4 separate regions of the Homo sapiens genome follow, and all the other regions are linked to region 4. Evidence: fine-mapped expression QTL. A gene starts in region 4. Each other region holds a variant in brackets. All regions are shown on one strand. Distances are from middle to middle.

Region 1 (6,278 bases), 150 kb after region 4:
ATTTTCTCAGGTCCCCCAGGCACACCATCTTTCCTCTGCTTCCTCTCACACAGGTGCTGATACTGTGTAGGTTTGGGGCTGTTGTTCTGGCCCACTCCCTGATATTTTCTGGGTTTGTCACCTAGTTTTCTTAAAAGTATCATCTACATGGTTTTGGTTTCACTATCTATTCTGTCTTTATTTGAACACTAGGGGAAATTCATTATGCCAATCTCACACATTGTGTGATTCCATTTATATAACCTTCTTGAAATGACAAAACTATAGAGATGAAAATCAGATTAGTGTTGCTAGGGCTTAGGGATGTTGAGCAGGGCAGTAATGAGGAAGAGCGTTATGGTGATAGAATAGTTCTGTATGTTGAGTGCAGTGGTGGTTATATGAATCTATACATGTGATAAAATGGTGCACACCATTTTATTTTTTACCAATGTCAAATTCCTGGTTTTGACACTGTACTGTAAGTATGTAAGATGTAACCACTGGGGGAAACTGGATGAAGGGTACACCAGACCTCTCTGTACTATCTTTGCAATTTTCTGTGAATCTATAATTATTTCAAAATTTAAAAAATGTTTAAAACGGGAATGAAGTATTGATACATGCAATAACATGGATGAGCCTTGAAAACAGTATGCTACATGAGAGAAGCCAGGCACAAAAGACCACATATTGTATGATGCAGCTTACATGAAATCAGAATAGGCAGATCTAGAGACAGAAAGCAGATTAGAGATTGCCTAGAATGGGAGATGGAGTCAGGGAGAGGGCAGAGTAGGAAGTGAGTGCTAATGGGGATGAGGCCTTTTCTAAAATTCTAAAATTAGATAGTCAGGTTGATTGCTCAACTCTGTGATGCTAAAAAGTCACTGAACTGTATATTTTAAATGGGTGGATTTTGTGGTATGTAAGTTATATAACAACTCAATAAAGTTGCTTTAAACCATTAAAAATAGTACCCGGATGTAATGGCTCACCTCTATAATCCTAGCACTTTGGGAAGCCAAGGAGGGAGGACTGCTTGAGCCCAGGAATTGGAGACCGCTTTGGGCAACATAGTGAGACCCTGTCTTTATAAAAAATAATTTTTTTAATTAGCCAGGCATGGTGGTGCATGTAGTCCCAGCTATTCAGGAGGCTGAGGCAGAGGATCACTTGAGCCTAGGTGTCCAGGCTGCAGTGAGTCATAATCGCACCACTGCAATCCAGCCTAGGCAACAGAGTGATACCCTGTCCCAAAAAGTTTTTTGTAATACTGTCCATACCAAGTATTGGTGAGGATGTAGAAAAGTTAGAACTCTCATGCACTGTTGATGGGAATGTAAAAATGGTAAAACTGCTTTGGAAAACAATTTGGAAGTTTCTTAAAGAAAAAAAAAATTGAGCATAAACCTGCCATATGATTCAGCCATTCCACTGCTAGGAATTTATCCAAGAGAAAGGAAACATATGCCCATAAAGACTTGTTCTCAAACATTCATAGCAGCTTTATTTGTAATGGTCAAAAAATGAAAACAATCAAAATGTGCATCCACAGGTGAATGCATAAACTGTGGTATAACCGTACAATGGAATACTACTAAGCGATGAAAAGGAATTAACTACTGACACATGTCATGATATGGATGAATCTCAAAGTAATTATACTCAGTGAAATAAGCCAGACAAAATAGTAATACTATATCATTTCATTTGAATATCATTGGTTACCAGGCAGGGAGGCAGAGGAATAAAAAAAAAAAAGGAATTACAAACTTTTGGAGCAAGCTTTTGGAGGTGACTGTATGTTCATAATCTTGATTGTGATGGTTTCATGGGTATATACATATGTCAAAGCTTATAAATTATATACTTTAAACATGTGCAGATGATTTTATACCAAGTATACCTCAATAAAGCTGCTTTAAAAAAACTATGCTACCATCATCTTCCTAAAATCAGCAATCATGTTTTTAATTATCAAGAATTATTTCTTGTTCTTTGTTAGTTTCACAATATTATAATTCTTTTTTAAATTAAAAAAAGCTGTATCTTTGAGAATATGAATTATTTGTTGTTTCTAACCTATTTCCTGAATTGTCTCTGGTGTCAGATTTTTTTCTTTCTTTTTTTTTTTAATTTTGATTTTCCAGTTGTATGCTATAGACCTTTCTCAATGTCTGGTGATCTTTGGCTTTCTACTCATATTGTGAAAATAGAAAAGAAGACATCTCACTGAGGACCCTGTACATGGGAGGCCTATATTGCTTTGGGTAAAGTGCAGGAATCTTACTTTACAATGAAGTTCTCAAATTCCAGAATGAGGAGGGCTTTAGGTGAGGTGCCGACATCACACTAGCTGCCTCCAGACTTTGTGTTCTATTCTTTTTAGAAAAATATTCTGTGCTGTCTGTGCTAGGACTTGGGTAGAAGGGGCTGTTATTTCAACTACCCTCCTGTGTTTAGCCTCAACATTCACTTCCACTTTCATTACCCACTGAAGAAGTCTCTCTCTCCTCCCTTATCTGATGAAGCTGTCTCTCCCTTGTTCGAAAACATATCTATCCCCTTTCCTTGTAAGAGGAAGACAATCCTCTCTAACTAAAGACAAATCCCAGTAAGCTTTTAGAGATATAAGTTCAAGTCAAACCTAGGAAAAGCTTTACACACAAAAATAAATATAGGGATATTGCCCATTTATAGCAGAACTGGATTCTGTGTCTGCCCACCAAATGAGGAGGAACATAGTTTTAGTTTGGGACTGAATTTACTGATGCGGATGTCCTTATGATTTTGGACTCATTATACTAGCAGCAGGGAATAGTTCTAACAATTTGCTCAGCTGGTTAACCAAAACCCAGAACCACCTGGTGTTCACTTGACAATGGAACACACTAAGTTGAGGTGCCAGAAGTTTCTTGAAATAATGCAGAAGTACATAGGAAGCTCCTTCCCTTAGCATTTATGAGCCCGTGGATCCAATGGTGTTCCATAAATGAGTGGCAATTGTGAATGCGATAGGAAATCTGTGACAGTCCTCAATAGGAATTGCAGTGGAGGCCCCTAAAGTAATGGAGCAAAGCCGCTGCCTCATAAGCAAGTGATTATTTTCATTTTGGAAAACTGCTCTAGCCTTGCTCTGGGGATCTGGGGGAGTCCAAGTGCTAAGATCAAAACTGCCCACTGTGAGTTGTCTCAGCTACCTAGCTATGAAGTTGGGCATTCTATGCAACATTTTAACATGAGCTATAAGAGGTATAAAATACAGAATGAGGCTCCAGCCATAGCTGAAGATACAATAAGCTGTCTGAATATAAGTAACACATGCTCCCACCATGCCTAGTCTGGCAGCTTGCCTTAGAGAATAGCAGAATGCCCTGCTGAAGAGCCAGCTGTGCCTCCAATTGG[GACA/G]ACACCTCATGAGGTTGGGGCACTGGCATGCAGGATATATTATATGTTCTGAATCATGAACCAATGTATGCGTATGTGTGGCTTCTCCTGTAATTAGAATGTACAGGTATGGAAACAATGGGGTGGAAATGGGATAGTATCTTTCATGATTAAGTCTAATGTGTTTGTTACTCATCAAATTATTGCTTCTCCTCTCCATGACTTGGGGCTCTGCTGACTTGGCATTTGGGGATCCAAGAGATAACTGCTTCTATAAGAAGACAAAACAATGTTTCCACTGCTGGTCATTTTGGGCTCTTATACCACAGGCAAAAAAAAAAATAAAGAAGGTCATGATGTTGACTGGGATGACTGGTCCTGAATAATCTTGATCATCATGGGAAAGAAGGCTGCTGCTTCAAAGTGGGGATGTGGAAATCTTAAAAATTTTGATATAGAGTCTCACTCTCTCACCCAGGCTGGAGTGCAGTGGCACTATCATGGCTCACTATAGCCTTGACCTCGGGATAGGAAAATCTTAATAGAACTCAGGTCTGCTATTCTGGAGCAGGTCTTAAACAACCATATCCAACGGAAAAAGTTAATGGAAGACTGCTATATCCCTGAAGACAGATTTACCAAGGAAGTAATTCTTATGAGGTGAGTTTGGTAAGAAACTCCAACTTACTGAGTTCTTTTGTGAAGGCAAAGGGAACATGACACAAATTACAGAGAGGAAAATTTATACATGTCAACCACAGCCCCATAAGCAATTACAGAATAGGGACTGTCACCTCTACCCATATTTCTTTCCTCGTTGGGTATATATTTATACATTTTAATGAATTTTAAAATTCCTCATCCCCACTTGTACCATTTATATTTGGTGTGCAAAAGTGGTTAATTATACAATTTCTTTTTTTCTTTTTAAAAATATCAGGTTTACTGAGGCCTAATTTTCTTTTTTAACAGGGTCTCACTCTGTTGCCCAGGCTGGAGTGCAGTGGTGCAATCTTGGCTCACTGCAACATCTGCCTCCTGGGTTCAAGCGATTCTTGTGCCTCAGTCTCCCAAGTAGCTCGGATTACCAGTGCCTGCCACCACGCCTGGCTATTTTTGTATTTTTAGTAGAAACGGAGTTTCACCATGTTGGCCAGGCTGGTCTTGAACTGACCTCAGGTGATCAGCCTCACAAAGTGCTGGGATTACAGGCATGAGCCACCGCACCTGGCCAAATTTTTTTCAAATATTTTAAATCAGCAATTGATTGAATCTGAAGATTCAGAACCTCAGAGGGAAACTATGTTGTTCAGAAGACTTACAGATTTGATTAGCTCAAGACATTTTAAAGTATGCATGGTGAAATTTTAATGGTAACCACGAAATAATAAAATTAGAATGTATAATTTCCAAACCAATAGAGAGAAGATATATGCAAAAGAAAGAAAAGAAAGGAAGAATGGGGGGGAAGGAGGGAGGGAGGGAGGGAGGGAGGGAGGGAGAGAGGGAAGGAAGGAAGGAAAGAAAGATTGGCAAAAATCTAAAATGAGACAAGAAATGTGTATATGCGTGTGGTGGGGGGAATATAATGAAAAGGGGACAAAGCACAAAGCAAGGTGATGGAAATAAGGCCAAATATATCATAATTACAATAAAGTTAATGACCTAAAAGTGCCATTTAGGACAGAGATACTTAAATTTGAAATAAAAACAAAGTCCATTAATATACTGTACAATAGGCTCACTTAAAACATAAGTCAACAGGTTGAAAGCAAAAAGATGAAAAAGACTAATCCAGACAAATACTAACAAAAGAAAGCTGAGGTAGTTATATTAATATTAGAGAAAATGGATTTTAAGACAAAAACATTATTAGGAAGGAAGAAGTTTGTTATATAATTTTAAAAATAGGGGGTTATAAGTACACAAAAAAATTGGTTAAAAAAATAAAAAAGATTTGAATAACACAATTAATTTGTTTTGTTTTATTTTTGGAGGTAGGGTCTCACTCTGTCGCCTAGGCTGGAGTGCCATGGTGCGATCTCGGCTCACTGCAATCTCTACCTCCTGGGTTCCAGTGATTCTTCCACCTCAGCCTCCCCAGTAGCTGGACTACAGGCATGTGCCACCATGCTTAGCTAATTTTTATATTTTTTGGTAGAGACAGGGTTTCACTATGTTGGCCAGGCTGGCAGGATTAGTTTTTGATCACACAATAGAACACAATAGAACATCTAAAAATTAGGGAATATTCATTCTTTTCAAGCACATGTGGAACATTTATAAAAATTAAATACTAGTCCATAAAGTGTCAGCAAATTTCAAATAACTGCTATAATAATAGCATTCTCTGACTACACTAGAATTAAATGAGATGTTAATAATCAAGAAAAAGGCTGTCTGTGCTGGCTCACACCTGTAATCCCAGCACTTTGGGAGGCTGAGGTGGGCGAATCACCTGAGGTCAGGAGTTCAAGACCAGCCTTGCCAACATGGTGAAACCCTGTCTCTACTAAAAATACAAAAATTAGCCAGGCGTGGTGGCAAGTGCCTGTAATCCCAGCTACGTGGGAGGCTGAGACATGAGAATTACTTGAACCTGGGAGGCGGAGGTTGCAGTGAGCCGAGATCGTGCCACTGCACTCCAGCCTGGGCAACACAGCGAGACTCCATAGGAAAGAAAGAAAAGAAAGAAAAGAAAGAAAGAAAGAAGGAAAGAAAGAAGGAAGGAAGGAAGGGAGGAAGGGAAAGAAGAAAGAAAGAAAGAAAGGAAGGAAGGAAAGAAAAGAAAGGAACTCTCCATGTATTTATAAATTTAAAAACACACTTCTAAAAATGTCAATACTCCCCAGATTGATATATAAGTTAAATAAAATTTCTACTAAAATCTCAGCAAGGTTTTATGTAGA
Region 2 (5,000 bases), 49 kb after region 4:
ATTGTGACGTTTAAAGAGTTTTAAAAAGGTCATTCCCTTGATGTAAATTTTGTATCAGCTGAAAGAATTGTTGGAAGAATATGTGCTGTGATTAAGATCATGGTCTGTGGGGTCAGTTAGTTTTAGATCCAACTCCTGACATTACTACTCTTTTTGACCTTGAGTAGATGGCTTATCCTTATTCTGTCTCTATTTCCTTGTCAATGAAATGGGAACGCTAATGGACATTATCTCACAGAGTTATTGGGAAGAGTACATGAGACATAATGAGTACATGGACATAATAAACTGCTTGCTGCAGTGCTGGACACAGAATAAGTGCTAGTTAGTGCCTTTGGTTATGTTGTGTTGAGATTGGAACATTTCTTAAAACGTTTCAGTCTCATTTACTTATTAATTACATTTAGAGTCTACTCTTTCCTCAAGGCCGTATAAACATGCAAGTTTTAAAAATATGAAATGCTAACATCTTAAGGTTGCAACTAGGTTAAGTCCTGTTGATCTTCATGAAATTGAGAACTGACCATGGCAGCCCTACCAGGAAATTATGACAGAGAAAAAAATTCCATTCCTCTTGGAGGACAGAAAGTAATAAATATAGTGTATTAGTTGTGTGTGTAGGTATATAAAGAGAGGTCACACACACACACGTTTATTCTTATAATATATTAATAATAGATCTAAATTACTGACCTGCTTTCTTCCCTCCAAAATTCATAAAAAAATGAAAATAGAAATGAAATCAGCATTCTTTATAGCTCAGCTGATATATATTATTACCCAATCTCAGGAATAGGAATGATTCTTAGACAGTAAATAAAACTTACACTTATTTTTAAAAATTCAGCCTCTTAGCCAGGCACGGTAGCTCACTCCTGTAATCCCAGCACTTTGGGAGGCCATGGTGGGTGGATCACTTGAGATCAGGAGTTCGAGACCAGCCTGGCCAACATGATGAAACCCCGCCTCTACTAAAAATACAAAAATTAGCCAGGCATGGTGGCGAGTACCTGTAATCCCAGCTACTCGGGAGGCTGAGGCACGAGAATCGCTTAATCCCAGGAGGTGGAGGTTGCAGTGAGCCGAGCTTGTGCCACTGCACTCCAGCCTGGGCGACAGAGCAAGGCTCTGTCTCAAGAAAAAAAAAAAAAATCAGCCTTTTTAGAACCGATCTACTTTCTATGTTTCCATAGCTGTGTAATACAGTAATGAGTGGGTTAAGGCATTGTGTCTAGAATATGTGTGGTGAACCTGTTGGACTTGAATGTAATCATTCCCTAATCTTACCACATAAAGATGGGATTAATAACCAGCACCACACCTGTGAGGAGAAATTCTGGAATGCCTCATCTTGCCTCCAGATAAAACATGTTCCTCCTTCCTTTAAGGTAAATGCAGGAATATTGTCAATGAACAAAATCCTTTCACTAGTCATTCCTGAAAAAGAATTACAGTTGGAAAATAAAAAAAATACTCCTATTTTAGAACCTGTAATGTGGAAGACTTATAATGAGGTGAAAATGTAGCGGTGGATTTAAAACTACAAGATACTTAATTATAGCCATGCAGTAAGTTATACTATATATTTGTCATGCAAGAATAACATTTGTAAGAAAACTGATACTGACACATGTATCTTTCTAATCCCTACCTTTGCTGTTTTTGTTTTCTTTTCTCTTTTATTTTTTGTAGAGATGGGGTTTCCCTGTGTTACCCAGGCTGATCTCACACTCCTGCCTCAGCCTCCCAAAGTGCTAAGATTATAGGTGTGAGCCACAAAGCTTGGCCTGGTTTCTTTTTTCTTGAGATAACCTGGAAAAAGATATGTCAAGTAGGAATAAGTATGTAAATGTTTAGAACAGATGGCAGGTAGTTAAAGTTAGAATAGTAATGTTGGGAGGCTAAATTGGGAGGATCACCTGAGACCAAGAGTTAGAGCCCAGCCTGAGCAACATAGTGAGACCCCATCTCTACAGGAAAATTTAAAAAAATTAGCTGTGCGTGGTGGTGCACACCTTTAGTCCTAGCTACTCGGAAGGCTGAGGTAGGAGGATCACTTGAGCCCAGGAGTTTGAGGTTGCAGTGAATTACTATGATTGCTCCACTGCATGACAGAGCATGACCCTGTCTCTAAAAAAAAGAAAAGTAAAAGAATAGCGATGTTGAAAATGAGGTAATGAGGTGCCCTTCCCCCCAAAAAATGAGTAGTTGTTAGCTTTTAGCTGTCATCGTGGTACAGCTACCATTTTAAGGGAAGGGTAGCCTTCCCTTAAAAACTTAGAAGTCGGGCCAGGTGCGGTGGCTCACGCTTGTAATCCCAGCACTTTGGGAGGCTGAGGCGGGGGGATCATGAGGTCAGGAGATCAAGACCATCTTGGCCAACACGGTGAAACCTCGTCTCCACTAAAAATACAAAGATTAGCCGGGCATGGTGGTGGGCACCTGGAGTCCCAGCAACTCGGGAGGCTGAGGCAGGAGAATGGCGTGAACCTGGGAGGC[A/G]GAGGTTGTAGTGAGCTGAGATTGCGCCACTGCACTCCAGCCTGGCAGTAGAGCGAGACTCCATTTCAAAAACAAAAACAAAAACCAAAAAAACCAAAAAACTTATAAAAGTCTTCTGAAGATAAGAACTTTCTTAGGGGTTCTAGATTGTTATGTAACTTTTCACTAATTTCTAGGTATCTGGTGACCCATCTCATGGGGGCAGATCTGAACAACATTGTGAAATGTCAGAAGCTTACAGATGACCATGTTCAGTTCCTTATCTACCAAATTCTCCGAGGTCTAAAGGTACAGATAATACAAGTAATAATTTTTTAAAATGAATTCTCCCTTTCTCCCCTCCTTTTAGGGCTTAAACAAACAAGTAAACAACTTTTCTAATGGAAAATTCAAACACATAAAATCACAGGTAAAGGTCATATAGTACAGTAAACTGCCATGTTCACTCAGTGACAACAGTTACCGACATATGGCCAATCATGTTTCTTTTGTATTTCCCAAGCCCTGGATTATTTTAAAGCAAGTCTAGACATTATATAATACCATCCATAGATACTTCAGTTTGCATATCTGAAAGATAAGGACTCTTCATTCTTACATCTAAACAATAATTTATTGATGTAATCTAATATCTGGTCAGCGTAATGTTGAGATTTTCAAAAAATCCTCAAGAAAGACTAATTTATTTGTTGGAGGGGCAGATAAACAGTGTTTTAAAATTAAACCCATCTTTGATATTTAGCTGCTTTGAGTCCTTATTGAGCTCCAGAGTGCCAACCAGAAAATAGATTAAAAGCTCAACTGAGTGGAGTCAATGGCTGTGGAAATTATAGTAATGGTAAATGTACACAATACTGATAGTTACTTATGCTGATTTCTAATCTTACTATTAACACTAGCAGTTCTTACTGATTCATGAAAATGTGCAGCAAATATGTTATATAATATGACAATAGAAGGTTGGAGGTAACTTTGACTTTTTTCTCTTTTGCAGTATATACATTCAGCTGACATAATTCACAGGGTATGTATTGTGACTTTGATTACATTATTTTGGGGAAGTGGGGTGAGAGTGGAAGAATGGCATTTAGCCAAGATCCTAATCTAAACTTTAGCCATTGAAATGTTGATTGATTGCAACTTTACTGTAGGTTTAAGCTGATTAAAGAAAGAAGATGTGTAGTTTTTTTCTATGTAAGGCTAACTTGGACTGGATATTGACTGTAGGATGGAGATTGTCTTTTGATAGCTGGATGAAGTCTTTTATGTCTGGATCCTCATTATTACCTGTAGGGGGAGAATTGATCATGCATCATAAAGTTGATCCTGTCTTCCCTGTATTTGCTTCCTAGGACCTAAAACCTAGTAATCTAGCTGTGAATGAAGACTGTGAGCTGAAGGTAAAATGAAGAGACAGTATTCATTGTTTGCTTTACTTTGAGATTATATGTTTGACTAAGCAGGCAGACTTTCTTAGGGAGTAGCTTTGTGAGCCATGACTATCTGAAATTCGTATTATTTTTATTATCAGACTTTGAAATTTAAACCATTTCTGAGTAAGCTAAGTGACATTGAAAGTGGCATCACTTGTTTTTATTTTAACATAAAGTTAAATTATAAATTTGATATATTAGTCATAATAAAGGAGGATAATAGTCAAATATCAAGTAAGTAGGCCCAAAGAGGTGATAACTAGATTAAATACATTTCTAAGAGGAGAAATGGCAGAAACCCACTCACTCAAAATAATTCAAATAAAAAATAAGTGAATTAATTGTTTCTAAATAGCAAGCAGCTCTAGAACTTTTGTTCCATTTCATTTTTTTAACTTGAAAAAATGTCTGTACATTAGAATGCACCATTTCATTTGGCAAAATTATATATCCACTTAACTCACATTTATGATAAAGACCATTTCTTTTTTTTTCCTTTTTTTTGGGATGCAGTCTCACTCTGTTGCCCAGTCTAGAGTGCAGTGGTGTGATCTTGGCTCACTGCAACCTCTGCCTCCCGGGTTCAAGCGATTCTCCTGCCTCAGCCTCCCGAGTAGCTGGGACTACAGGTGCACGCCATCACACCCGGCTAATTTTTGTATTTTTAGTAGAGATGGGATTTCACCATGTTGGCTAGGATGGTGTCGATCTCCTGACCTCGTGATCCACCTGCCTCGGCCTCTCAAAGTGCTGGGATTGCAGGTGTGAGCCATTGCTCCCAGCCAAGAACATTTGGATTACTTTAAAAAGTTTATGGCCAGGCGTGGTGGCTCATGCCTGTAATCCCAGCACTTTGGGAGGCCAAGGCGGGTGGATTATGAGGTCAGGAGATAGAGACCATCTTGGCCAACACGGTGAAACCTCATCTCCACTAAAAATACAAAAATTTAGTTGGGCATGGTGGCGGGCACCTGGAGTCCCAGCTACTTGAGAGGCTGAGGCAGGAGAATGGCGTGAACCTGGGAGGCAGAGCTTGCAGTGCGCCGAGATAGTGCCACTGCACCCCAG
Region 3 (6,278 bases), 28 kb before region 4:
ATGTCTTCAATCCAGCAATGGCACCAATGGCACTCTCCAGGAAAAGAAGGGTTTCCAATAGAAAAGTTAAGATAGGCCCCTTTGGTAACTCTTGTAACTCTCTTTCCCTAATGAACAGAAGTTGATAACACGGGTCCTTGTATGTTGATCAGAGGCTCCCAACAAGTGCTAGCTCACACTACTCCTTTCCTTCTTTGTGAGCAGTCAGCTCACTTAAGTTCTTGCCCTAGAATCTACTGCTCTCTAGGTTGACTTGGGGAAAACAGGGACAAGGTGATCAGAACAAGCCTTTGCCTATTTATTTATTTATGAGACAGGATCTCACTCTGTTGCCCAGGCCGGAGTGCAGTGGTGCAATCATAGCTCACTGTAACCTCAAACTCCTGGGCACAAGGGATTCTCTGCTTCAACTTCCCAAATAGCTGGGACTACAGATGCTCACACTGGGCATTTTTTTTTTTTTTTTTTTTGATAGAGATTGGAGGGGGGGGTCTTGCTATATTACCTAGGCTGGTCTCGAACTCCTGACCTCAAGTGATTCTCCTGTTTTGGCCTCCCAAAACCCTGGGATTACAGGCATGAACGCACTGTGCCTGGCCTGCCTTTGCCTTTTTAAACCTCTTTCATTAGAAGCTTTGATAGCCCTTTTCAGGAGATGTTAACATTCCTCTGAGGAATGCAGCTTTTCACAAAGGAGAAGAGAATTTCAAAACAGTGGGATCGAGCTCAAACTTCTTGGCCTTTGACTCTTATCTTTACTGAGAATAATTAAATTGAATTTATTTATGTTTTCAGGATTATGCATATCCTGAAGGAAAATAAAAAAGGTATTTTACATGTCAATATGCATATGTAAAATTTATGTTATATAGTATATAATAAAATTTTATACACACAGGATCTAAAAGGATAGACCTCAAATGATTAACAGGAATTACCTTTGGGGAATGGGGTTAGATGTTGGGGACAATATTTGATAATTTATACACTTTTTTACTATTTGAGATGTTCGTCTTTTATAATAAAAACCACAATTAGGTTGGGTGTGGTGGCTCATGCCTGTAATCTCAGCACTTTGGGAGGCTCAAGTGGGAGGGTCGCTTGAGCTCAGGAATTTGAGATGAGCCTGGGCAACATGGCGACACTTTGTCTCTACAACAAGAAAAATAAAAAACAAAAAGAGGGTAGGTTAAGAAAACTGGCACAGCCCAATGAAGACTTTTCAGTAAGCAGGGTGGAAAGGAGCAAAACAGAAGTCTTAAAGCTTACAATCATCACTTCACTCTCCACTCCACTAAAAGCTCTCAGAAAACAAACAAATTTGGAACAATAAATCATTTTGCTTTAACAGGTTTTTGTTTCAAAGCTTTCAATCAGCCCGGCACTGTGTCTCCCTTTTTTTTTCTTTTCTTTTTTTTTTTTTTTTGAGACGGAGTCTTGCTCTGTCGCCCAGGCTGGAGTGCAGTGGCGTGATCTCGACTCACTGCAATCTCCACCTCCCAGGTTCACGCCATTCTCCTGCCTCAGTCTCCCGAGTAGCTGGGACTACAGGCGCCCGCCACCAAGCCCGGCTAATTTTTTGTATTTTTAGTAGAGACAGGGTTTCACCGTGTTAGCCAGGATGGTCTCGATCTCCTGACCTTGTGATCCGCCCGCCTCGGCCTCTCAAAGTGCTGGGATTACAGGCGTGAGCCACTGCGCCCTGCCAACTGTCTCTCCCTTAATCTCCTGTCATTGCCGCCCAATGTTCTATTTTACTCTAGTCAGGCCAGTCTGCTTCCTATTTCTTGCGTGACTGGCTGACTCCTACTTCTGTGCTTATGCATGAGCCCCTCTTTTTTCCATCTCTGCCAATCCATGTGCATCATCTCTTTTTTTTTTTTTTTTGAGACGGAGTCTTGCTCTGTCACCCAGGCTGGAGTGCAGTGGTACAATCTTGGCTCACTGCAACCTGTGCCTCCCAGGTTCAGGTGATTCTCCCACCTCAGCCTCCCGAGTAGCTGGGATTACAGGTGCCCAGCACCACGCCTGGCTAATTTTTGTATTTTTAAGTAGAGACAGGGTTTCGCCAAGTTGGCCAGGCTGGTCTTGAACTCCTGACCTCAAGTGATCCACCCGCTTTGGTCTCCCAAAGTGCCGGAATTACAGGCGTGAGCCACTGTGGCTGGCCTGCATCATCTTTCAAGAGCTCAGTAAAATTCCTCTCCTTTAAGGAGTGTGGTGAAAAAAGCATGGTTCCTGGGCTTGGAGAATCTGGCTTCAGTCCTGGCCCAGCCACTCATTGGCTGTGTAAGTGTGGGCAAGTTAACTCTTTGAACCTCAGTTTCCTCATCTATAAAATGTGAATAATATTCAATGTAAAGTGTTTTGAATAGATTAAATTTCATCACACATGTAAAATACCTAGCTCAGATGTGAAAATAGTGACAAATATGTATCACTCATATATGCAAATATATGTTACTCTTCTTCATACCATCCCTGCCTTCCATCT[T/C]GTAAATGGCAAAAATCTGCAATTGCCTTAGAACTCTTTCTTGCCCACTGTAATATGGCATCACGTTCAGTGTTAACATAATATTCTAGGCAGCCACTGTTAATCAGTCAGGGTTGGCCTGTGAGATGAAACCTATCTGCCATTCTTATAGGAAGCCAGTACTAAATGTTGAATGAATGAAAGGGAGGGCTCAATAAATAGTTGTTTCCTTCCCAGATAACTTCGACTCAACTAGAGGTTATTTTTTAACTTCATGTTCTTTTGGCACTAAACTCTTATATGAATATTATTTTATGCTTAAGATTTCCTAGAGCACAGATTCTACAATCAGACAACCCTAAAACTGAATCCCAGTTTGGTGTCTTAGCTATGTGACCTTGGGCAATTTTCTTAACCTCTCTATGCCCTTGTTTTCTTAAAATAAGGACCATAGTAGTGTGCTACAGGCGTGCACCACCACACCCAGCTATTTTTTTTTTTTATTTTGTTTTGTAGAGACAGAGTTTGCCTATGTTGCCCAGGCTGGTCTCAAACTCCTGGCCCCAAGCAATCCTCCTGCTTCAGTCTCCCAAAGTGCTGGGATTACAGATGTGAGCCACCATGCCCAGCCCTCTTCCTTTTTTAGATGAAAAAAGCTGAGGCTTGAAGGAGAAGAGAAAGCATGCATGAGGCCCCTTGATAATTAAAAGGTTGCTTGTGTATTTTGTCTTATCCCACAAGATTAAACTTTTTAACCACAGGAAACTATATATTGTTTTTTAAATTTTTGGTCTCTGTTAAAGTACCAAATTCATTTCTCTGTGCCCACTAATTATAACTTATTGATGCTTACTATGTGACAAGCTCTAGGCTAAATACTTTGCATGCATTTTTTTCACTAAATCCTCCTAAGAACCCTGCAAAACAAATATTATTCCTGCTTTATACATGAGGAAACTGAGGCCCACCAAGGTAAAATAATTTACCAAAATTCACACAGCTCATAGTGTCAGGGCTGGAGTCTGCCCACTTTGATAGCCTGCCTTTGTAGGTACCCAATAAATCTTTACTTAGTGAAAGACAGTCCCAGGGGAGATCAGTGAAAATCAACTAGAGACTGGGTTAGTTGAGAAAAAAGAGAAATAAGCCTGGAGGATGTGACTAGTTCAGTAGATGAACTTTTGGTGATAGACTCTCAGAGGAAATTAAAGACAGAGCCAAAATAAGTTTTGAGATTTTAATGAGTCATTCATATTATTGTCCTTTAGCTGTGGTCCTTGTCAATGCAGAAAAAGGATTCCAGATCTGGCTCTAAAGCTTACTAACCCAAAGATAGTGTGTGAGCCTGTGAGGCCATCATTATTTTTATTATTATTATTATTTTGGAGACAGGGTCTCGCTGTGCCACCCAGGCTGGAGTGCAGTGGCATGATCACAGCTTACTGCAGCCTCAACCTCCTGGGCTCAAGTGATCCTCCCACCTCAGCCTCCTGAGTAACTGGGACTACAGGCACATGCTACCATGCCCAGCTAAATGAGTCCATTCTTGTTGATAGAATATAAAGCAACTTTTGGCTGGGTGCAGTGGCTCACACCTATAATCCCAACAGTTTGGGAGGCCGAGGTGGGTGGATCACCCGAGGTCAGGAGTTCAAGACCAGCCTGGCTAACATGGTGAAACCCCTTCTCTACTAAAAATATAAAAATGTGCTGGGTGTGGTGGCATGCACCTGTAATCCCAGCTACTTGGGAGGCTGAGGCAGGAGAATCACTTGAACCTGGGAGGCGGAGATTGCAGTGAGCCACGATTGTCCCATTGCACTACAGCCTGGGCAACAAGAGCAAAACTCCATCTAAAAAAAAAAAAAGAATATGAAGCAATTTTTGAAAAGGTAAGATCAGGAGTGGAGCTCTGGACTAAGAGTCCCCAGACCCCTGGGGCCACCGACCAGTACTGGTACTGGTTTGTGGCCTGTTAGGAACCGGGTGCTGCACAGCAGGAGGTGAGCAGCAGGCAAGCAAGCATCACTGCCTGAGCTCTCCACCTTCTGTCAGATCAGCCACAGCATTAGATTCTCAGGGAAGCACAAACCCTATTGTGAACTGCACATGCGAGGAATCTAGGTTGCATGCTCCTTATGAGAATCAAATGCCAGGTCATCTGAGGTGGAACAGTTTCATCCCAAAACCACCACCCTCCCTGGCCCCGACCTGCCATTTGTGGAAAAATTGTCTTCTTTTGCAACTGGTCCCCGGTTTCAAAAAGGTTGGGGACCACTGCTCTGGACCATCATCCCTTAGACCCTTTGTCTTAGAGGTGAAAGGACTGAAGAGAATGTTTAATATCTCATCCTAAATCAGTGGTAGATGATTTCTGAGGAGAGAGAAGTTTTGTCACTAAGGAGACACGCTATTCACACAGCCTCTGATTTTTCAAAAAATAAATCACTGAAGTTCCAGGTATATCACAGTGGATCACAGGAGCAGTATAAGGAAGGGGTCTGTTTATAGCCCCTTTATTCAGTTCCTTTTCAGGGATTTGAAGACTCAGATCCTACCTGAATAATCCCAGTCAGAAAAGTTGTGGTTGCCACCACACTCAAGGATTTATTATAGCCCATAAGGTAGGAGGGGGCCGAAAACTCATTCTTGACGAAAGATCCCATGACCAGTTGACCGTTGTTGAATGGGCTCACTTTCAGAACGTTGATCAGCAGAGCACTCACCAGGAAGAAGGAACCTGTGGAAGAAGATGTTAGGTAGAAGGTGAAGTTTCAAGTCCAGGTAAACTGATATTGACAAAAGCAAGGTATGGTTGAATTCTGGATTGTCCTTCAACTGAATAACTTTTCTCATTTGAAAGTGGCCATTGAGAAGTAAGAAAAATCAAAAAAGAGAACTGTGTCTCCACATATTGTGACCAACTCATGGGATTTAGATGGTGGTGGTTTAGGTATTTAGTCTCTTTGTGTTATGGGTATGTTGAGTGGAATAGAGAAGTTGACTGAAATGGGTGTCAGGCTCAGCTGCTGTGTCTGCTCTTAGAGAAGGTTAAAAGTGAGATGGCAGTGAAAATATTAGAAAAGAAAGCAATCACCGGGCATGGTGGCTCACGCCTGTAATCCTAGCACTTTGGGAGGCTGAGGCAGGTGGATCACCTGAGATCAGGAGTTTGAGACGAGCCTGACCAACATGGAGAAACCCCGTCTCTACCAAAAATACAAAATTAGCTGGGCATGGTGGTGCATGCCTGTAATCCCACCTACTCAGGAGGCTGAGACAGGAGAATCACTTGAAGCCAGGAGGCAGAGGTTGCAGTGAGTCGAGATGGCACGATTGCACTCCAGCCTGGGCAACAAGAGCGAAACTCCATCTCAAAAAAAAAAAAAGAAAAGAAAAGAAAAGATAATGAAGCAATCAATAACAATAGGAAGAAAAATAATACTGACACTGAGGTAAATTAAACTTATTTCAAACATTGTTTTGTTTAGTCCTCATATTGTCATAACACATAAGAGAGCAAAGATATATCTTAACTTTAAATTTACCTAACATAAATAAATCTCTAACAACCCTTATTATAAGTATTTGGAAATGATTGTGAGGTTCCTCAGAAACTTGGAAATATAGGAATAAAATTGTTTTATTGGTGTTCAAATGTAAAATCAACACATAGCAGATTGAATAAAGACATGAGCTATTCTTTATTTTTATTATTTATTTATTTATTTTGAGACGGAGTTTCGCTCTTGTTGCCCAGGCTGGAGTGCAATGGTGTGATCTTGGCTCACTGCAACCTCCACCT
Region 4 (6,158 bases):
ACTAGATTTCTTCACGAGTTATGTCATTAAATTTCCACAACAATACCAGTACTACTATTTCTTTCATTTTACAGGTGTAAAACCAAGATTTTAGAAAATGTAAGTAATTGGGCCATAATTATATATTGTATTTTTACCCTCAAAGCATTGGGTAGAAGTAATATGCTGTATAACAACCATGAACTAAAGATCACAAATTCTCTAAACCAGTGAGGTGACTGGGGAATACAGAAGAGGATGGGAGAGGTATTTTACAATATATTACTTAAGATAATTAGTGCCTCATGTCTCTTACAAAAAGAAAAAAAGGTAGAACTGTATATTGAAATGTAAGGAATCCCCCCCCACCTTTCTTTCCCCACCCATAGGAATACAGACCCAATCTTCCTTACTTTCCCCGTATAATTGTCCAATGTACTTCCATGAGTAGTCTCTTTGTTCCCAGCAACCTAAACAAGCCTAATTAGTCTGCTAATGACAAAACTGATATCCTGGGTCACATCGAGAGTCTAGAACCCAGCATTTTGTTCTGAAAGTGACATTAAAGGAGGATTGGTGTAAAATAGGCAAAATATGACCGTCAAGGAGTGGTGGGAACAGTGGGGCTGGCAAAGGCAGCAGAAGCTGCTTAGCTCTAGCCATTTTTGCCATCGGTCAATGTGGGGCCCGGAATGGCTTAGATCTGATCTTTTCCAGGAGAAGCCATAATGCCAGATTTTTATGTGGAATCTTCTGGCTTTTAAATGTTGTCAATTACTTTACATATGTTTACGTATACATATAAATATATATGTATATTATTTTATTTTATTTTTTGATATAGAGTCTCGCTCTGTCGCCCAGGCTGGAGTGCAGTGGCGTGATCTCAGCTCACAGGGTTTCACGGTGTTAGCCAGGATGGTCTTGATCTCCTGACCTCGTGATCTGCCTCCCTCGGCCTCCCAAAGTGCTGGGATTACACGCGTGAGCCACCGCGCCCGGCCTATTTTTTATTTTTTTGGAGATGGAGTACAGCTCTGTCACCCAGGCTGGAGTTCAGTGGCGCGATCTTAGCTCACTGCAACCTCCACCTCCCAGGTTCAAGCGATTCTCCTGCCTTGCCTCCTGAGTAGCTGGGATTACAGGCATGTGCCACCACATCTGGCTAATTTTTGTATTTTTGGTGGAGACAGGGTTTCGCCATGTTGGCCAGGCTGGTCTTGAATTCCCTACCTCAGGTGATCCTCCCGCCTCGGCCTCCCAAATTGCTGGGATTACAGGCGTGAGCCACTGCGCCTGGCCTATTTAAAGTCTTTCAGCAGAAGTAGTAATACGCACAGAGATGCATTTTGGGAAGATGAAATGTGCCAGTGTTATGTTCTAGAGCTGAGTTGTCCAGTATGGTAGCCACTGGCTACATGTGGCTATTTAAACTTAAAATAAAAAATTCAGATCCTCAATTATACTAGCTAGATTTCAAGTGCTCAACAGCCACATATGGCTAGTGGTTACCTTACTGGACAGTGCAGATATGCAGATATAAAAAATTTCCATCATCACAAAAAGTTGTTGGACAGTGGAGATAGGAGAGACTGAGGCAAAACAGCCAATTGGAGACCATTAATATTAGTCTAGGAGATGTTATCAAGTCATAAACTCCTACGACCACAGTGAGGATGGCTAGGAGGAGCAGGTGGAAAGTTGTCTTTAAGGAACTCCATCAAATGTCTGGCTAACAGCAGCAAGGGTAAACGCATGGTTTCCTTATTATTTTTTTTAAGTAATTTTCTTTGGAATTTCTCCAGCTCCATTATGTCTTTCTTGATTTCATAGAAATCCTAGTGGCTCATTTTCATGTACTAGCAGGACACTTCCCAAGAAGATGCAATGACCAGAAACTCCTACTGTTGAGTAGGCCCCACTTAGCAAGACCTACTGAATCAGAAACTCTGGGGGCCATCAGTCTGTTTTAAGAAGCTGTCCAGACTGCTGGGCCCCCAGAGATTCTGATTCAGTAGGTCTTGCTAGGTAGAAAAAAAGCAAAGAAGCTGTCCAGGTGATTCTGATAAAAATTAAAGTATGACTACCACTATAAATATAGTGGATTATCTTTCATGAGCCTTTCAGTGCTAAATTTGGGGGCCCTGTTAAAATACAAGCACTTTTGGCCTAGCTCTTTCACCCTCCATAGTACCCTTATCCATCCATCCATCCATCCATCCATCCATCCATCCATCCATCCATTTATCTAATTATTTACATTATCTGTGTTCAGAGTGCTTTAAAAGTAAAGAATAGGCCAGACATGGCTCAGTGGCTCATGCCTGTAATCCCAGCACTTTGGAAGGCCAAGGCGGTTGGATCAGCTGAGGTCAGGAGTTCAAGACCAGCCTGGCCAACATGGTGAAACCCCGTCTCTAATAAAAATACAAAAATTAGCCGAGCATGATGGCGTGCCTGTAGTCCTGGCTACTCAGGAGGGTGAGGCAGGAGAATCGCTTGAACCTAGGAGGCAGAGGTTGCAGTGAACCGAGATCAAACCACTGCATTCCAGCCTGGGCGACAGAGCAAGACTCTGTCTCAAAAAAAAAAAAAAAAAAAAAAGTCAAGAATAAAAAGTTTAAATACAATCCAATTTTTTAGCTATTGACCCAAATAATATGAAATCTTGAAAGCTAGTTTAGTTGCAGGAATATCTTCCCCCTGATATTGTTAACTTTCTTATGTTTTCTATAATCACGGAAAGGCAAAATTTACTTCCGAATTTTCAAAATAAGCATTTGTAATTCCATCAGAAACAACCCTACACCTGTTACTACCTAGGTTTTTATGGAGAATGTATTGGGAATACAGAAAAGGTATAAGCAAAGAGCCTGGCCTTTAGATCCTTTAGTCACTCTGGCTAGTGGCTAGGGATGACTAGTAAGATGACAGTCCTTAAGCGGATGACCATTGGACACATAAACATAGGACAACCACCTTCCATGCAATGTGGATAGAGTAACATGGTGTGTTGGAGAGATGCTCATTATTGGGGTGGGGGTGCTGGAGAAGGCTTCACGGGGCCCCTGACACATCAACGGCATTTGACATGAAAAGAAAGGGGCAAGGAGGTGGGGGTGGGGATTCAGTCACAGGGAACAAAATTAACAAAAGCAGTGGGGTCTGAAAGGAAGAGGAACGGCCGGGCAGTCAGGCCTCAGGAGGAAATGGATGGGGTAGGCGGTGGGGTGCAGGTAGCACGTCAGTTCTGGGGCTTTTGACAATATAGACAGGAGAATTTGAAAGGATGCAGCTTGCAAAACGCACACACTGTTGTCTCTTGTCATTGCCATCCACACGGCCTTTGAAAGTAGAGACAATACCTCAGAGATAAGCTCCCAGGGACGACCATCATTCATTCATTCCACAGATACTGACTGAGTGCCCACGGCGTGCCTGGCTCTGCGGCATACCTGGGTACCTGCCGGTGACGGACGCAGCCCCCGCCCTGGGACCTGCAGCCCCCGGCGCCCAGGCGTCTCCCAGCAGCGGCTCACCTGGCTCCTTGGCGGGGGCGGGAGTGCGGGCGCTGGGATCCCACACGGCTCTCGCCTGGCTGGCGGCGCTGCGGACGCGGATACCGGCGGCGGTTCCCGAGCCGTTGTGGCCTAGCCCGCGGGCGTTCCGGGCGGGCTGAGGAGATGAGAGTGGGGGAGGGGACGAGGAAGAGGAGCATGAGCAGCTGGGCTAGGGAGCCAGGAAAGTGGTACCTGGGTCGCCCTCCTCATACCTGAGTCGTGGGATCCCCTTGGTATTTGGTAAACCTGTATACCAAGGCTCCTTCTCTCTCCGAGGTTTTGCTATTCTTGATCGAGGGCCTATTTGGTGCCAGGCCTCGTGTCCTGAACATACAGCAGTGCACATGTGTCACATGTGTACTGCACAGACGGTAATTCACTAACGTCTCCGGAAGACTTAAGCCTTCCTCAGGTCAGAAGAGGTAAAAAGAAATGGAGGCTAGGAGGGTCACCCAGGTCTCCAACCATAGGCTGTCTGCCCCACAAACCCGGCTCTCCCCACTGAATGACACCCTCCTGCCCAGATCTGCTCTGGATGCAGACATGCCATCTGCACTCACTCCCTTTACCCTCCTCCCACCCTATCCCTGTCCCTAGCACTGTCTCTCACTCCACCTTGTATTCCTGCTTGGCCCAGTTACAGTTTTACACTTGTTTGTTTGATGACTGTGTTAATGTCTACCTTATAATGCACTTTATGTATTCCTTTTTGTAAATCATCTTACCCCTATGAGGGCAAGGACTTTTATCCCTTTCATTAACTGTTTTATTATCAGTGCCTACAGCAGTGTGGTGGACATAGGAAGTATTCAATTAATTTTTGTTGAATGATTGCCCTCCCATTGATTGTAAGCTCCACACCGGCAGCAACTGTAGTTTTTAATCACTTTTAAACTGCAAGTGTTTGACACCTAGTAGGCATTTAATACACATTGGTTGAATGAGTGTATGAATATACTGCTTACTTTATCTTTACCCTTTCATTCACCCTCACCTCATCATCCCAATTTGTAGGATAAAAATGTGCATTTCTGAGGATTCCTACTTCCAAGCTTCCTCCTCACCCTTTGTAACCATTCCCTCATTCCCTTGATCCCCCCAACCCCATCCCTCATGTCTTCACAATCATGTTTTTGCTCTTACTTCCCCTTCACCCTCCATTACTTCTTAGAAAGCTTCCTATCCTCCCTAGTTTGGAACATTCTCAAGCAACATGTTTTTGTAGATAAGAGAATTCCAGCCTAAGCTACATTGGATCCAAAACAGCTTTCCATGAATCACCCATGACTATCTGTTTTTTGGTTTTATATTGCTTTCCTTGAAGAGGACTGAGGATACTGTACCACTTGAAATCATGGTCACTGTTCATAATTTTTTCAACAAATATTTATGACACATGTTTTATGTTCTAGACATTGTGCTAGATGTTGGGACAAGATATGCAAAGTCTGAGCCCTCCAAGGTGTGTATGACACAAAATAGAATAATCACGGGAAATGTTGAGAAATGTCCTGGCTTGGATCTAGTTATTTCTAATACAAGAAACTAAGAGAATGAGACAGGATCTGATTCTTCTGCTCATTGTAACAAGCTTTAGCATAGGCATAGGTTGATAATGGATGTAGGCATGGGGTTAGAATGCCTTGCCCATTCACATTTATCTTGTTTGGTTTTTACAAATGACTCTGTTAGTCGGGAATGCAGGGCAGGAATTCTCTCGTAGAAGCTGGAACTGAGGTTCAGGAAAGGTCAGTTGACTTGCCTAAATTCGATGAGACTCCTGCCCTATTCTCCTTACTCGAAGAGGCCTGAGTTAAATGCTTAAAATCCTCTTCACTGATGGCTCTTCAGGATAGGAGTCAGTTTCAAATCTTCAGTGTAACGGTTTTTTAAATGCTTCTCAAAGGGAGATATCAGAGACTTTCCTGAATCAGAATCACCTAAGATGTATTATAAAAATGCATGCTCTTGATCAAGACCTCCTCTGACCTACCCAATTAGACTCCCTGTGAGTTCTGGGAACTTGCATCTTAAACTCCCAGGGTGATTTTTCTGCATGTAAGTTTAACTGGGAGAGTTTTAATGTAAAGCTTCGGTTTGTTTTTGTTTTTGTTTTTGTTTTTGAGACGGAGTCTCCCTCTGACGCCAGGCTGGAGTGCAGTGGCGCGATTTTAGCTCACTGCAACCTCCGCCTCCTGGATTCATGCAATTCTCCTGCCTCAGCCTCCCGAGAAGCTGGGACTACAGGGTCGTGCCACCACGCCCAGCTAATTTTTGTATTTTTTTTAGTAGAGACGAGGTTTCACCATGTTGGCCAGGATGGTCTCTATCGCTTGACCTCGTGATCCACCCGCCTCGGCCTCCCAAAGTGCTGGGATAACAGGTGTGAGCCACTGAGCCCAGCCCCTGGAAAGCCTCAGCTTTGATGCAGGGTTAACATTTGCCTTTGGGACATATTTCGTCAGCATCTCAAAGAGTAACCCATATGTCCTTGAGCAGATGGGAATGCAACAGCCTTCTGGCCGGAACCTGTCTCTTTCTTTCTTTCTTTCTTTTGAGACGGAGTTTCGCTCTTGTTGCCCAGGCTGGAGTGTAATGGCACGATCTCGGCTCACCGCA

Evidence for each region. PIP is the estimated chance that this variant, and not a neighbour inherited with it, causes the effect. A credible set is the group of variants that fine-mapping cannot tell apart.
Region 1: its variant is the best candidate, but not a certain one, in a credible set for the expression of SLC26A8 in whole blood (TOPMed, PIP 0.54).
Region 2: its variant is the best candidate, but not a certain one, in a credible set for the expression of SLC26A8 in monocytes (TOPMed, PIP 0.72).
Region 3: its variant is the best candidate, but not a certain one, in a credible set for the expression of SLC26A8 in whole blood (INTERVAL, PIP 0.54).

Annotation. Positions count from the first base shown.
Region 1 is chr6:36,169,330-36,175,607 of GRCh38, forward strand. The region is part of intron 2 of BRPF3-AS1 (BRPF3 antisense RNA 1); the gene reads right to left. Among named protein-coding and RNA genes, the nearest start is that of BRPF3, 24 kb to the right of the region's middle. The variant GACA/G (reference allele first, on the strand shown) is at 3,388.
Region 2 is chr6:36,070,198-36,075,197 of GRCh38, forward strand. MAPK14 (mitogen-activated protein kinase 14) reads left to right here. Exons shown (of 12, transcript NM_139012.3): 4 at 2,676-2,787; 5 at 3,494-3,523; 6 at 3,852-3,899. Among named protein-coding and RNA genes, the nearest start is that of MAPK14, 45 kb to the left of the region's middle. The variant A/G (reference allele first, on the strand shown) is at 2,500.
Region 3 is chr6:35,992,707-35,998,984 of GRCh38, forward strand. SLC26A8 (solute carrier family 26 member 8) reads right to left here. Exons shown (of 20, transcript NM_052961.4): 5 at 5,032-5,213. It overlaps LOC105375034 (a long non-coding RNA gene), which reads left to right and starts at 5,152. Exons shown (of 4, transcript XR_926746.3): 1 at 5,152-5,257. RefSeq lists an enhancer at 394-907. The variant T/C (reference allele first, on the strand shown) is at 2,495.
Region 4 is chr6:36,020,986-36,027,143 of GRCh38, forward strand. It overlaps SLC26A8 (solute carrier family 26 member 8), which reads right to left and starts at 3,656. Exons shown (of 20, transcript NM_052961.4): 1 at 3,519-3,656. RefSeq lists enhancers at 3,101-3,602, 3,603-4,102.